3 separate regions of the Homo sapiens genome follow, and all the other regions are reported to be linked to region 3. The links are microRNA targets in miRTarBase. Many come from high-throughput screens and were not tested one by one. Region 3 holds a microRNA gene; each other region holds the end of a gene's coding sequence.

Region 1 (5,075 bases), not on the chromosome of region 3:
ACCGTGCCTGGCCCAAGTTAGAATATTTTGCCGGGGAGGTATACTGTATTAGTCAGCTCAGGCTGCCACAGCAGACTGCCATAGACTAGGCAGCTGGAATAGCAGAAATTCCTTTCTCACAGTTTTGGAGGCTGCAAGTCTGAGATCAAGGCACCAGCAGATTCATGTCTGGTGAAGACCCACTTCCTGGTTTACATGGCCACCTTCTGGCTGTGTCCTAGCATGGAGGAGGGGAAGGCTCTGGTCTCTTTCTCTTCTTATGACACTAATCTCATCATGGGGCCTTACCCCCATGACCTCATCACTTCCCAGGGTCTAGGTATGGGAGCTTGATATACCTGTGTCTGGTTTTGCCAAATAAGTATTGTTTATTTACTTAATATGAGAAAATTCAAGATAAAACAAAGATTGAAGGGATACTGAAAGAAAGGTTGAATTTATCATAGCTTTAGGGAGCAGAAGCCAAAGAGCAAGAGGAGCAGGAAAACAGCATGAGCGGGCAAGGGTCAGCCCTGCTGGCCCAGGTGCGCCCACAGAGCTGGTGGCCTCCTTTCAGAATGAAGTCCCAATGAGAGCAGAGCCCTGGGGAGGAAATTCTTTTGCTTTGAAATGAATTTGTTTTGTTTGGTAAGTAAGGTAGCAAATACCTTTTTGTGATGTGAAGAATGAATTTTGGCAGTTTCGCATTGACTTGTGCATTTGTCTTCTCTCCATGCAGGCGGGCTGGTCCGAGTCTCTGTTTTGGAAGCTCAACCAGTGGCTGATGATTCACATGTTTCACTGCCGCATGGTTCTAACCTACCACATGTGGTGGGTGTGTTTCTGGCACTGGGACGGCCTGGTCAGCAGCCTGTATCTGCCTCATTTGACACTGTTCCTTGTCGGACTGGCTCTGCTTACGCTAATCATTAATCCATATTGGACCCATAAGAAGACTCAGCAGCTTCTCAATCCGGTGGACTGGAACTTCGCACAGCCAGAAGCCAAGAGCAGGCCAGAAGGCAACGGGCAGCTGCTGCGGAAGAAGAGGCCATAGCTGCTCCAGCCGGGGCTCCGGGGCGGCAGCAGAGCTGGCACACCGATTCTGGGAAGCCCCGCGAATGATGGCTTTTGAATTAATGAGGCAGTGAATGTTTTGTGTTTACTTCTAAGGGAAATACTAACTTTCTTTCGCATTAGTATTAATTTTGAAGTAGCTACAAAGTATTTTTAAGAAATTATAATTTTATGACTGTCTGGCAGGCTCTGTCAGTTTAGCCGCGCCGGACCGTGTCAAGCATCTAGGAGAGGAGTCCATGGTGTCCAGGCATCGGGGCGTCACACCTGTTGAGGAGTGGGGTGGCTTTGAATGCTGGAAATGGCTTCATAGTGAAGTGCCTCCCACAGGGCGGGTGGGTCAGCGTTGACTCTTTCCAGCTGCACACTCATATGCCGTGTGTCTTATTCAGAAGTCACATTCTTTTCAGTTGGAGAGAATTGGGCTAAGATAGAAAATAACATGATTTGTTCCTTATTAAAGCTTCCCAGCGTATGAAATTCTAAGCTGGGTGGGGTGGCTCACACCCGACGTAATCCCAGCACGTTGGGAGGCCGAGGCAGGTGGATCACTTGAGGCCAGGAGTTCGAGACCAGCCTGGTCAAGATGGTGAAACCCCATCTCTACTAAAATTACAAAAATTAGCCGGGTGTCGTGGCACACACCTGTAATCCCAGCTATTTGGGAGGCCAAGGCAGGAGAATTGCCTGAACCCGGGAGGCGGAGGTTGCAGTGAGCTGAGATCGCACCACTGCACTCCAGCACTCCAGCCTGGGTGACAGAGCAAGACTCTCTCTCAAAAAAAAAAAAAAAAAAAAATTCTAGACCGAAGTGTACGGCAGTGCCATCTGGTGGCAAGTGGTACAAAGACAACGCTGAGGGGTAGTGACTCCTGTAGCAGCAGAGACGCCTTGGAGTTTAACCCCCACCAACCAGAGCGTGGGCTGGTAAAGATGAAATCTTGCAAGTTTTTTTTTTTTTTAAATCATGGTACCTGTTTTAAAATGAGAAGTTATTATTCATACTGTGTTGCTCATTTGACAAAATAAGGTAAGGATTTCATAATCAGGTTGTCTGGGTTTCAGAGCTGTTTTTAATTGACTGAGTTACCTACAGGCACCCAATCTAGACCCTAATTCTGTGGTTGGTGTTCCTCTGTAGATTTCAAGACAAGTAGTGATGTCATTTTCTCCCTGAGCTGTAGGGTGGACCTGGACCCCTCAGAGATGCTCGACTGCAGGGTCCTGGGGTCCCTAGAGTGGTCCTGCAGCAGCCCCTGGCAATGAGCTGCCTGATGATGAGTCCCAAGGTACATTGTTCTACTGTTTTATACCCAGGTAGAAGTTACACAGCAATTTAGCAATGTTGTTAACAGACATACAGAATTGTGTGTGTGTGTGTGTGTGTGTGTGTGAGTGTTTTGATATAAACGTGCAATTAAAATTCAAAGTTTATTTTTTATCACAAGCACCTTTGAAATGTACGTGGAAAACGTCGGCTGCTCGTGAGAATCATGTGTGACTTACGTTCCTTATGTTTTATGGAACTCTCGGAACAGTGTTTTGTTTTTGTTTAGTTTTTGTTTTCGTTTTTTTGAGACGGAGCCTGGCTTTGGCTCCCAGGCTGGAGTCCAGTGGTGTGATCTCGGCTCACTGCAACCTCCACCTCCCGGGTTCCAGGGATTCTCCTGCCTCACCCTTTCAAGTAGCTGGGATTACAGGTACCTCTACCATGCCTGGCTGATTTTTTGTATTTTTAGTAGAGACAGGGTTTCACCATGTTGGCCAGGCTGGTCTCTGACTCCTGACTAAAAGTGATCTGCCCACCTCGGCCTCCCAAAGTTCTGGGATTACGGGCGTGAGCCACTTCACCCGGCCCGGAGCGGTGTATTTTGATTGCTGGTGCTTTAACTATATTGACCAAGGTGTATAGTAACCTATTTATCACATTTTACGAAGCAATTTTAATCTTAAACACATCCAGCAAATGGTGTCCCTGCTGAAACTTTTAACTGGAAACCTCACACCTGGCAGGCAGCACTCTCTGCAGCCGTGCCCTTGTGGAGTCAGCAGGAGCTGGTGTTTTTCAGCCAGACAGAGGCATAATAAAGTGACTGATGTTTACAGAACCCAAATGATGTCTTCCTCTCTCTCAAAATAAACTAACCTATTCATATTGCTGTGAATGCTTTATCTTGGAGATAGAAAATATAATGATAAATTCATCATGTGTTCAGAATTCGATTTGGAGTTGGAAGTGGACAGCCTAATTTTTATCTCACCTCCACTAGGACTTTGACCTTCCCAGGGGTCCACACTTTACCTCCTGTATCTTCATACGCGTGTGTGGATGCATAGAGATGGAGGTGCTGTAGAGAAGCACAGGCTCACCCGCTCCGTCCAGTGTCACCCACACATTGGTCCGGGGACCCCTCAGTGCAGAGCCTGAAGTTGGGGGTTTAGGGGTGGAAAAGGCTTCGTGAAATGTTAATGATGCGTACACCTTCCAGATGGCACAGCACTTTCCCATGGTCCTCACTGGCCTCAGTCTCCCTGACCGGCAGTGTGAGGGGATGTAGCTATAGTGGAGCATGGTACAAGCGACATTCATGAGCTCTGACTTCTTGGTGCCAGGTTGGTGTGAGCCTGGGCCCGGCCCACTCAGCGGCCCACATTGGCCAGCATTCAGCTGCACGTGTGTGCTGCGTGCTTCACATCCTCTATTGAGAGTTACAGCAAGTGTTAAACGAGGTGAGTTCACATAACAGGAATTCTGGAACTGCTTGAAAACTAGGACGATTGGGCAATATCGGCCTTAACTCCACCTGATGGCAGGTGACCCGGATAGAAAATGGCCCTGCGTTTAGCCAGGATGTGGCTCTCCAGCTTGGCTTCAGTGTGATCACTTGTCAGTGCGCTTTCTCTTTCGATAGTGAAATCCTTCTCTATACCTATGTTTTGTTTTGTTTCTTAAGTTGGGAAACAGAATGGGCCAGGGAGGTTGAGTGACTGAAGACCAAGGGTTGGTGCAGCCTCCTCGCCGCGCTGCGGGGGCTGGGCCGCACAGGCTTCTGCCCTTCTCGGTGTCCAGGCTCCTTGGGTGATGCTGGAGTTGTCATGGCCGCAGTTCAGTGTGAGATTTTTTACCAGGTATTGCGCTTAAGGGACATGATTTTCCATTTTCTTCGCCCGGACAACTTGAATGAAATGGGCACTGTTGATTCCACTTCTGTCGAGGAGCTTCGGGGCTCAGAGAGGTGATGACGTGCCCAAGGTGACGCAACTCGTGAACAGCCGTGCCTGCCTTGGGCGCAGCCTCCGGCGCCAGAGCTGGGCTCTTCAACACGGCATTTAGCGCAGAAAGTCGTGGTTCAGGCAGTATGGGCCGCTGTGACAAAACACCTAAGACTGGGTAGTTTATAAAGAACAGACATTCAGGCCAGGCACGGTGACTCACGCCTGTAATCCCAGCACTTTGGGAGGCCGAGGCGGGTGGATCATTTGAGGTCAGGAGTTTGAAACCAGCCTGGCCAACATGGTGAAACCCCATCTCTACTAAAAAAACAAAACTAGCTGGGGGTGGTGGTGCATGCCTGTGGTCCCAGCTACTTGGGAGGCTAAGGTAGAAGAATTGCTTGAACCTGGGAGGCAGAGATTGCAGTGAGCCGAGATCACGCCATTGCACTCCAGCCTGGGTGACACAGTGAGACTCCATCTCAAAAAAAAAAAAAGAACGGACATCATTTCTCACAGTTCTGGAGGCTGGAAGTCCAAGATAAAGGTGTGGGCTGATTAGTTTCTGCTGGGAACACTGCATCCTCACGTGGTGGAGGGGATGGAAGGTCAACAGGCCTCAGCTAGTTCTCCGCTGCCTTTTTATGAGGCATTAAGCCATTTGCAAGAGTAGGGGGCCCCACCTCTTAATACCACCGCAATGACAATTACAATGTCATGTGAATTCTGGAGGGGACACGGTCACACTGCAGCATCAGCACCCGGTGAATGTGGTTCTCTTCCCATGTCCGAATTTTGTGAGCTCC
Region 2 (5,075 bases), not on the chromosome of region 3:
TGTCTGTTTTTAAAAATTCATTCATCGGTGTTTTAAACAAACTGGAGACTAGGGAGTCCCTAAAGGCCTCACTCAGACTTACCTTCTAAAAGCTGGGAAAACTGAATTTTTTTTTATCCAAAATGATGTAAGCTAAAGTACAGGTAGTATATTAACTATTTTAAAAACCTAATGCTTTTTCTGCCTTTTCTTCTACCTCATTGAGTTTAAAGAGTTTTTATTAAAATTTTATTAAGAATTATGAGAAATTATTTAAAAATGTACTGAAAAGGCAATTAAAATTCTCTTCTCACAGATATATGTATATTTTACTAGCCTAACTACGTAATTTTTTAATATAAGAAAGATTTCATTTATCATGAGATCTGAAATTAGAGCTTATAATTATTTAAAGTAGTCAATAATGCTAGCGTTAATGATTTTAAATACAGGTTATAGGTTTCTAAATGACATAATTTACATTTTAATATACAGGTGCTTTTAAGAAGAATTAGGCATTAAGGCTGCCCTTAAGAATGTCTTTCATACTTAATTGTCTAGGGAATAAAAAACATAGGATAGAAAATTGGTTGGATTTCCTGTTTTTTGCTCTTCACTTAAAGATAACATTATTCTCTTTATCTCTGCAAAATAATTACAGATACAAGACCTATAACACAGTTTCTTCTTTTCACAGCTTCGGTGTTTACTTGCCTGGCAATAGCATTGGGATTTTATAGATTCTGGAAGTAGTATTAATGCTCATCCTGCTGTGGCTGTTGGCTTCTTAGAACACCAAACCGGGAGAGATTTACTTTGAACATTGTCAGTTGCAGCAAAAATTTACTACACAAGATTATTCGAAGTGTATACGGACTAAAAGAGGAAGTGTTTTAGAATGAGAAGAGATACTGTGTCTTTATTGTGTGTGTGTGAGTGCAGGTGTGTGTCTTTATTATATTGAAAAGCTGTCACTCAGACCTGGTTTGAGATAGAAGAGCATTTTGTCCTTTTGATAGTTAATAGAAATTGAACCAGAGTTTTCTTATGTTTGCTTGAACAGTTGTGTAAATCATACAGGATTTTGTGGGTATTGGTTGAATATTTGTAAACCATTCCCTAGCCTACATATTTATTACTGAATTAACTTTCCTGATAACCATTGCATAATTACATTTTTCTATAAAATGAAAGATTATTACAACAAAGTTGTGTGGGTTTTCAAAGTGACTTACCATATAGTTGGAGATTGATTTCTTTTTGGTAATGAACTAAAACAATAAATTTTAAAATGATAGGCCAGGCGCGGTGGCTCACACCTGTAATCTCAGCACTTTGGGAGGCTGAGGCGGGTGGATCACTTGAGGTCAGGAGTTCTAGACCAGCCTGGCCAACATGGTGAAACCCCGTCTCTGCTAAAAATACAAAAATTAGCCAGGCATGGTGGCACATGCCTGTAATTCCAGCTACTCGGGAGGCTGAGGCAGGAGAATCTTGCAGTGAGCCGAGATAGCACCACTGCACTCCAGCCTGGGTGACAGAGCAAGACTCCATTACCTAAATAAATAAATGTGTGCTTTAGTGCAAATTACAACACTTAATATGAAATCTGTAGAGTTGCTAAATATTGAGCTCTGATTATTACATGTATTTTTTAAATATTTGATACTCAAAAACCAGTTTATCCCTGCTTCTTAATGTAGTTTAAGTTAACCCATCTTAAATTTATTACATAAAACAAAGCTTTTCTTAATGACTTCAATTCAGCAAACATTGATATCTAGTACCTACTCTCAAGAAACTCATAGGAAAATTTAAATTCGTATTTTGTTTTGTTATTAGATATATTTTTTCTTACAAAGTAATATCTATTAGTAAATCATATGTAATTTCAAAGAAATTTTAAAATATCCTTTTCATCTTAGTTCTTCAGTCTTACCCAGATCAAGAAGACAAGACCAGAAAGTAAACATTTTGAGTTCATAATGCCTTGGTAATAGCTATAAAAGTTTGACAATCATTATTCAAAATAGCCTTGTCATTTGTTTAGCTATAAACAGGGAATCTGCAGTATAGAGCAGTCAAGAGATTGGTCCATATGGTCCAGTGAGTGAGAGTCAGGCTTTCCAACTATATTTTCCTCAAAAATCTAACTGCTGGTTTGTTTTCAAAAGAAAAACCTTGACATTATCCTGTTACATTCTGATTCATTTTTATCTCTATTGCCTAAGAGAGTTCTTAGTATATTATAGATTAATTTTCACTGAGTCAATTAATAAGTTACCATATATATTAAAGTCCACTGTAACAAAGTATACTGCATTTGTTCAGTTAACCAATATGACTGCCTGCTATATGCCAAACAGCATGCTAGTCCCTGTGTGCACAGAGATGAACATGGTTTCATTCTCATTGAATTGACAATCTTAAGGAGAGAGACATAAACAAGTAAATTATTGGTTTGTTAAGATTTAAAATATTCTAAAATATTAAGAGGGAATGCGTCTTTCCTCCATGTGAAGGAAGCTCCAGTAGCATAACACTGTCGTCACTCTTCATCCCCTTATCCACTCTGCCCTAGGTAAAGTGACTTGCCCAATTGTAAATCTGGAAGGAGAAACAAGGTGCAATTAGCCCACTTCCTCCCCACTCCTGTTTGGGACCAGCCCATCTGAAGAGACATTCATTCTGTTCTGCTTCTATGGGATCAGGCTCTGCCTCTGCAGGATGAGGCCTGGCCCAGTAGAGCAATGCTTGAGACAGGGTAAATCTGTCCAGTTCTAGAGTTCAGTGATAAGAAGCTTACTGGCCTTAAGATGAAACCCATATTCTCTTGCTGAGCACAGTGGCACACATCTATAGTCCTAGCTGCTTGGGAGGCTGCGGCAGCAGGATTGCTTGAGCCAAGGAGTTCATCAAGGCTAAAGTGTACCATGATCATACCTATAAATAGTCACTGCACTCCAGCCTGGCAACACATGAGACCCTGTCTCCTAAAAAAAAACTTCTCCAATAGTTTTATCAGCAAATAAAGGTGTTTTTTAGGCCTCTATATTAGTTTATTCATTCTTCATCTTAGTTATATTCACAACCCAGAATGGAAAGGAGGTATGCCATTTATTGGACCTTCTCAAGCCCCAACAAATAAATATACTTATTCCCAGGTTATACAGCCACTAAATATTAAATAGATCTGCGTTCTTTCTCATTGTAGGGGTTTAGCAAACAAAGTGCTTTGTATCCAATAACAGAAGAATAGAAATATGCATACCATACCCTGTCCCCATTACTTTTAGATCCTATATCCTTTCCATGAAACTTCATTTTGATGGTGGTTCTGGGGTTCAGGTAAATTTTTGTTTCAGTGATGGAAATATATGAAATAAGGATGAGAGGATTGTGTTTCTATATGCCTTAAAACTATACCTCTATTCCAGCACTTGCACTTCACTATGAAACAGCAATTATACGTATCTTTTTCCTACACTAAACTACAAGTTCTCAGAAGGCCTCTAGACACATGTGAGGTACTTGTTAAACGCCTGTGGAATAAATGATACTCATAAATCTCAGTTGACCTTAATCCAAACTTTTTAATATTTTAAATATTTAATTATGGGTATGCTGAAAATACTGCATTCATACTGAGTGAGCGTAATACACCTTTTAGGCATTTTCTATGAGTGGTAAGAAGCCTCCACAAGGATTAGCTACTTTCACCATGTTTATAGCCACAGTGTAGATCCTAACCTGCCTATCCATACTGCTTTGGTGACAAAATAGGCCAGGCAAGAGTATGTAAGGACTTGGCAAGAGTCAGGAAAAACCCTCACCTATTGGAAAAACAATTAAAAGCTTATAATGTTGTCAAACTTGAAGAATTTGGATATGTAACACTTGTTTATTTTTTAAGTATTTTTTAATATTTAAAAAAAGGGCAGTGGGAAAGGCTGTAGTCATTATCACTGAAACTACTGATTGCTATTTTGAAAAAAAATAGCTATCATTGACTATATGAGGGCAAATATGCTAAATAACATATATGTGCTCACCTATTTTCACAGCTCTCCTCTTAGGTAGATGGTATCCTCATTTTACAGCTGAAGAAACAAGTTTAGCCAAGTGAAGTAACTTGTCCACAGTCCCCCAGCAAGTAAGTCACAGGGACTCAAGTCTTTAACTCCAAATCTCACCCTCTCATGCTGTCACTCAATATACTAGTAGGGTTCAACCTGAGTACTCTTTCTCATGAGATGGACAATCTACTAAGTCATAGGAACAAAATAACTTAAATCTCTTTAATAACCTTTTTTTTTTGTTTCATTAACCTAAATGTGTCAATAATATAGGTATATGATTTATGAATAAATATACACAATTTGGGAATTGTATTATAATTTTAATTTAGCTGCTGTAACAAGATCCAGAATAGCAGTGGCTTAAATAAGATTAGGTTTATTTCTCTCTTACAGTCCAATGTAAGCATTCTAGGGCTAATATGTCAGCTCCATGGTGTCAGGGCCCTTGCTCCTTATTTTACTGCTCTGCCATCCTGGTGTTGCCCTCATTCACAAGGTCCAGTGGCTGACTCACCACCACATCCACATTCCAGAAGAAGAAAAGAGCAAGAGGTGGCATTATAGCCATGACCCTAAGGTTTTACGTAACATTTTTGCTCACATCCTTCTGAACACAACTTGGTCTCTTGGCTGCAAAGGCAAGCTGGGAAGTTAGTTCTTATCCTGCGCGGCCACAGACCACATAAATCCTTCCCACTACAGAAGAAGGGAGAATGGATTTTGGAGGACAACCAGGGAACCTCTGCCACAGGGTGTGTATGCTTTTATTACAACACTATTCTGGTGTTTTCTACCTCACTGGTACAGGAAGAAATTAGAGAAAACTGGAGCAAGTACAACAAACTATTTCCAGGGTTGGGATTAACTTTAGCATCAAGTTAGAGGGGAAAAGTAAGGCTGTCTGTAGTCCCAGAAGGGAAGATAAATGGTTTTGAAATCCCAGTAATGGTTAAGAGAATGCAGACTTTTGCTGCCAAGGTTGGAATCCCAGATCAGCATTATATAATCCTCGGCACA
Region 3 (5,075 bases):
TCCCTGTCTTGTCCTGGAAACTCAGCAGTTGTGGCATCCCATCCGTGGAGAAAGCAAGCCCCCTGCCCCGGCAGGCTCGGTTGTTTTTATCAGCAATGAAATTCAGAGATAGACTTTCTCAGCTTAGCTCTCAACCCATCCCTCTCGGGCACTGGGAGTGTACAGAGATGGCCATGCCAAATTTAAAGCCATGTAATGTCGACTGGACCAAATGAGTATCCTTCTAAGGGCACCTAGAAATTCTCAGCCTAACATCCATCACGAACTCTGGCAGGGGATGAGGGTGTCTTTCTCTGTGGGCCCTCATGTTCGCTTTCAGAGACAGCGGGTCAGAAAAACCCATCCCGCTGCTGCAGCAGCTGTGGGGTTAGGAAGTTGGGTCCTTCCTGATGTGCCCACTGCAGACCCTCCCACTAGGTCTGCTCAGTGCATGTAGCTACACAAGATGGGCAGCATCCAGGCTGAACCCTGCTGGGAGGACTAGCACAGGGATGCTCTGGGAAGCAGAAAGACGATTTGTAGTGGCACTCTCTCATGCCTCTCTTATTTAGAGAGGAAAATAAGCACCCTGTGATTCTGTTGTAAAAAGAGCAAACTAAGCATGTTCACCCTAAAAACAAGTGTAAGCGCAACCTTTTCTTTCTACAAAACCAGCTTCTGGGCATCAGAGGAAGATGAGAGGGAATTGTCATTGATAAGGGCCTCTTTGTTCCGGGTCCTATGTAGACATCATCTCATTGGACCCTCACCACAGCCCTGCAAGGAGGCCAATGGAACTATCCTCATCTTGCAGATGAAGAAACCGAGCTTTCCAGGAGCACCCTTCTGATTTGAATAGGCCACAGAATTCCAGTTAATGTGTCTGTCTGCTGCCTATTAGATGGTGATGTTTCTGTGATAGGCTGGGCTTTTGTAGCCTGTAGCTTTGAAAATCCCTAAACGTTTTTTGGGGGGGCCGTTTATCCAAATGTTCAGAATGTACCTGTATGGCTTTTCCAACTCACTCCTTCTTGGGGCTCTCCCCCTGTACCTCCTCTAGGTGCGCCCACCTCGTCCACATGTTGTTAAGAGACCAAAGAGCAACATCGCAGTGGAAGGCCGGAGGACGTCTGTGCCGAGCCCTGAGCAGTGAGTATTGTGCCTCTCCCCTCTGTCTGTAAGAACCCTGTGTCTGCGGAGCCAGCACTTTGCGAAGCCCAAGCGTGTAGCCCCGGCCTTTGTGAGGCTTCCCCGGGGCTCCCAGCGGGTGTTTCACAAAGGGGTCATTCAGGGAACAGGACTTGATCTTTTACTCGGTCTGGTTGTCACACCAGTGGGAGGCCCCAGAGGCCAGGGAGCCGGGCACTTGGGCTGGATTTCGAGGGGTGGGGTCCAAAGCATACTTTGCTGGGTTCAGAAGAAGGTCCTAGGCCTCTTGTGCTGAAGATGCCGAGTCAGTAGGTGAGGGTTAGAACCTGGTGAAGGAGGCCAAGTGTTGAACTGGATCCACCCACCTTCCTAGGCCTCCATGGCCGAGAACCTATATACAGGACTGCCCTCATCCACTGCCCCAGACCCACCAGGACCCTTTGCCCACCTGTGCCGGAGGATTTATGTTACTGTGGTTTTTCTTACCCATCTCCCTGAGACGCGGAGCTCCCTGGGTGTTATGCCCAGCACCTCCCGTAGGACTGGCCTAGAGTCACCTGCTCAGGAGGCGTGGGGTAGATGAAGTGAATGAGGGGGGCAGAAAGACAAGCAGTGGACTGAAGTGGACCTGCCTGTGGTGGGGTGAGGCAGAAGGCTGCAGATAGCCCCGAGTCCAGACCAGAGCCATCTGCAGAAGGTAGCACTGCTTCCCTTTGTCCGCAAAAGGAGCACAGCCCTCAGTCTCTATCCAGACAACTCAGCGGCTACACGCTGACTTCCTGTGATGCCTTGAAAAAGTGCATGAGTTCGTCTTGGTCTAGGATTGTTGGAGGAGTCAGAAAAACTACCCCAGGGATCCTGAAGTCCTTTGGGTGGAAAGGGGGAGGCCCCCATGTCTGTCTGGCTCTCAGAAAATGGGAAAGAAGGTAAGGGACATGGCAGGTCCCAGTCAGAGTTGGAGCAAGAAGGAAAAAAAATGATTTCGAGCTGTCAAGCTGGGGCCTAACCCAAGTTGCAGTTCACTTCAGCTCTCCAGGATTTTCTGGTTGATAGCGAGGGTACGGTCTTTAAGGAACCAGCCCACCCAGACAGCCCTCAGACTTTGCCCAGAAAGTTCCAGAATTATATGTGTGCGTGCGTGTGTGTGTGTGTGTGTGTGCACGTGTGCGCTTGCACACAAGGATGCTCAGTTATTAGACATTTGGAAGAGAGGACTCCTGAAGCTGGGTTAAGTTTAACTTTTGCTCTGCACAATAGCCTGGTGGGAACATGAGGGATGGATTATGATTGCCCCCTTATGGAGAGAACGCTGCATGGCACCTGAGTGCCTCGGACTAAAGATTCCTCCTTAAGGGGATGAAATTTGTCACATTTCTTTGAAGTCCCCTCTTTAAAACTGGACTAAACCTTTTAGACACTGTACCAGGATACAGGGTCACAGGCCTGTTGATATTGAGATGTAAACCCAGAATATTCTTGCATTACACAGAAACACCATTGCAACACCAGCTACACTCCACATCCTACAGAAAAGCATTACCCATTTTGCGGCCAAGTTCCCGACGAGAGGCTGGACCTCTTCATCACATTGACTTACGCCGTTGCTTTTCCAGACTGGGCAGAGGGGCTGACTTCGCAGTGTGTGCCAAAGAGCCGGTGTCTGATAATCCCATTTTCCTGCTTATCACCTGAACTGTGTCAGTATCACTTTTAGTTTTGTTGGTTGGTTGGTTTGTTGTTTGTTTAATATGCCCTGTTTTCTACTTCTGTTGGAAAATATTTGGGGTTGAAATAAACCAGTGGGAGCATGGGAGCCAGTTTGGTGGTTGGCAAACTACCAGTGATAGAAAACAAATGACAGGTTTTCTGTGAGCGTACGTCACAGTGGCTCGGGCCCACAAGGAGACAGAGGGGTACGTTTCAGGACATCATTCCAAGGGTTTCTGTTCACGTTTGTTTAACGAGGAAGGGGAAGTTGTTCTCCCATAATACCAGTGGTATTTCTAGTGCAACCCGGGTGTTTTTCTACGCCTCTTCCCATGCTGCTTCCCCACCCCCCCACTGTGCTCCGCCCCTTCCAAATGCCATGTCACAACAGCACTTGGATGTGTTTTTCTCAACTGTCATCAGCTCCAGCTGGCAGGACCAACTTCTTGAAACACAGGAAGCATCCAGCGGAAAATATTTTAATAAAACAGACTCCTCATAAAATATTGTTCGGGGGAGGGGGAAGAAACCGGCTCCACCAATCTGTCGGCATTGTATTGGGAGATGTGAGAAGCCAGGCTGGCAGCAGGGGCCCGATCCTAATGGGCCTTTGTCAGGTGGTGGTTCCGTGTTGGGCACACGGACTTGGTGCCTGGCCCTTTAATCTGGCCTGGGTTTTCTTGAATCACAGATCTTCATCTCCACTGGGAATATCAAAGTGCTTGGGAAACTTAGAAGACTGGGGCAGCAGAAGGGGATGCAGGATCTTTGAAGTGGAGAGGAGAGATTCATTCCTCCTGACTTCTTGCCCCAACTCTCACTTCCAATTGCACATTAAATAATCCCAGCACTTTGGGAGGCCAAGGCGAGCGGATCACCTGAGGTCAGGGGTTCGAGACCAGCCTGGGCAACATGGCGAAACCCCGTCTCTACTAAAAATACAAAAATTAGCCGAGTGTGGTGGCGCACCCCTGTAATTCCAGCTACTCGGGAGGCTGAGGCATGAGAATCACTTGAACCCAGGAGGCGGAGGCTGCCGTGAGCTGAGATCACACCACCACACTCCAGCCTGTGCAACAGAGTGAGACTCTGTCTCAAAAATAAAATAACCAGCTTTGTGGACAGCAAGATGGGGCTGATTAAGAGTAAGACTGTCTCCTGGAGTAGCTGAGCATCCTGGGACTCATCAGGGCCCAGAAACACTAGCCAGCCACTCTCTGGCCAGTCCACCCCTGAAGTTCATTTCTTCCTTCCCAGCTGATGTCCATCCCTCCATCATTCCATCTGTCCATTCGTGCATTCATTCATTCAGCAAGTATCTTTGAAAACCTACTAGGCGCAAGCACGGACGATTTTTTTAAAGGAGGCCTTAAAAGGGAGTCCCCATGCTGACTCTTGGTTGACTTGCATTTTCCCAAAATGAAATTTTCCTGTGTCAAATTTTCTTTCTGAATCAATGATAGGTTTCCTAGTCCCTTAAAACTGGCCGTTGGCAATTGGAAGAAGACTTTTTTGAAGATTTGTGGGGGAAACATTCCCTTTACTTTTCAGGTAACATTACTTGGTTAATATTCAGTTACTAAATCTCTTCAAGAAGTACTGGCTACTTCCATTACTATTCAGAGCACAGCTGATGTGACGCCCAGGGGCTTCCGTGGGGCAGGGATCGGGGTAGGAGGGATCCTGCATGAGAGGCTGTGGGTCAGACACCAGTCAGCAGGGGGCGCGGTGGAGCACCCATTGATTTCTAGGCCCTCTTGGGCTAGCATCGTTTCTTCCCGAGTGGGAGCTCAGGCCCAGAATGTGGATTTGACCAGTCTTCCCAAGGTCACCCAGTTGAAAAGTGGCCAGGCCAGCATTCAGAATTCTTGATTTCATTCTCTCCATGACATTCTGATGCTGTCCTTGGAACGGGGCCCTTCAGGGTTCATCTTTAGTCTGGCTTTGCCCAGAGAGACAGCTCCACATCCTAAAATGAGATGATGGCCTGCCCAGCAGGCCACCCTTCCTCTCTGGCTCCCTGAAGGCTGGAGTTGGGAACCGGATCTGTTCAGTCTTCTCACCGCCAAAGAAACCATGTGCACTGGTGCCTGAGTGTTTCTTCTTGGGGAAGGAAAGAGGAATGACATTCACCAACATCCCTTAAGGTTGTCAGAGGTATTAGCCGGGCATGGTGGCGTGTACCTGTAGTCCCAGCTAGTCGGGAGGCTGAGGCATGAGAATTGCATGAGCCCTGGGGA

Evidence for each region. Region 3 holds the annotated microRNA hsa-miR-601 (UGGUCUAGGAUUGUUGGAGGAG, at 1,942-1,963, shown strand). A microRNA usually pairs through its seed, bases 2 to 8, with sites in the 3' UTR of a target mRNA and lowers its output. Matches are read on the target gene's strand: a 7mer-m8 pairs with bases 2 to 8, a 7mer-A1 pairs with bases 2 to 7 and ends in A, and an 8mer does both.
Region 1: miRTarBase lists CLN8 as a target of hsa-miR-601. Seed matches in the 3' UTR shown: 7mer-m8 at 1,858-1,864 and 7mer-m8 at 2,162-2,168.
Region 2: the mRNA of CCDC90B is a reported target of hsa-miR-601. Seed matches in the 3' UTR shown: 8mer at 1,356-1,363.

The regions. Positions count from the first base shown.
Region 1 is chr8:1,779,532-1,784,606 of GRCh38, forward strand. CLN8 (CLN8 transmembrane ER and ERGIC protein) reads left to right here. Exons shown (of 3, transcript NM_018941.4): 3 at 719-5,075. The coding sequence ends at 1,036. Among named protein-coding and RNA genes, the nearest start is that of CLN8-AS1, 17 kb to the left of the region's middle. RefSeq lists an enhancer at 4,182-4,681.
Region 2 is chr11:83,257,568-83,262,642 of GRCh38, reverse strand. It overlaps CCDC90B (coiled-coil domain containing 90B), which reads left to right. Exons shown (of 9, transcript NM_021825.5): 9 at 677-3,562. The coding sequence ends at 732. It also overlaps a transcript of ANKRD42 not described here. Among named protein-coding and RNA genes, the nearest start is that of CCDC90B-AS1, 26 kb to the left of the region's middle. RefSeq lists a silencer at 4,442-4,736.
Region 3 is chr9:123,399,455-123,404,529 of GRCh38, reverse strand. MIR601 (microRNA 601) reads left to right here and starts at 1,927; the gene lies at 1,927-2,005. It overlaps DENND1A (DENN domain containing 1A), which reads left to right. Exons shown (of 24, transcript NM_001352964.2): 21 at 1,040-1,128. RefSeq lists an enhancer at 1,303-1,924.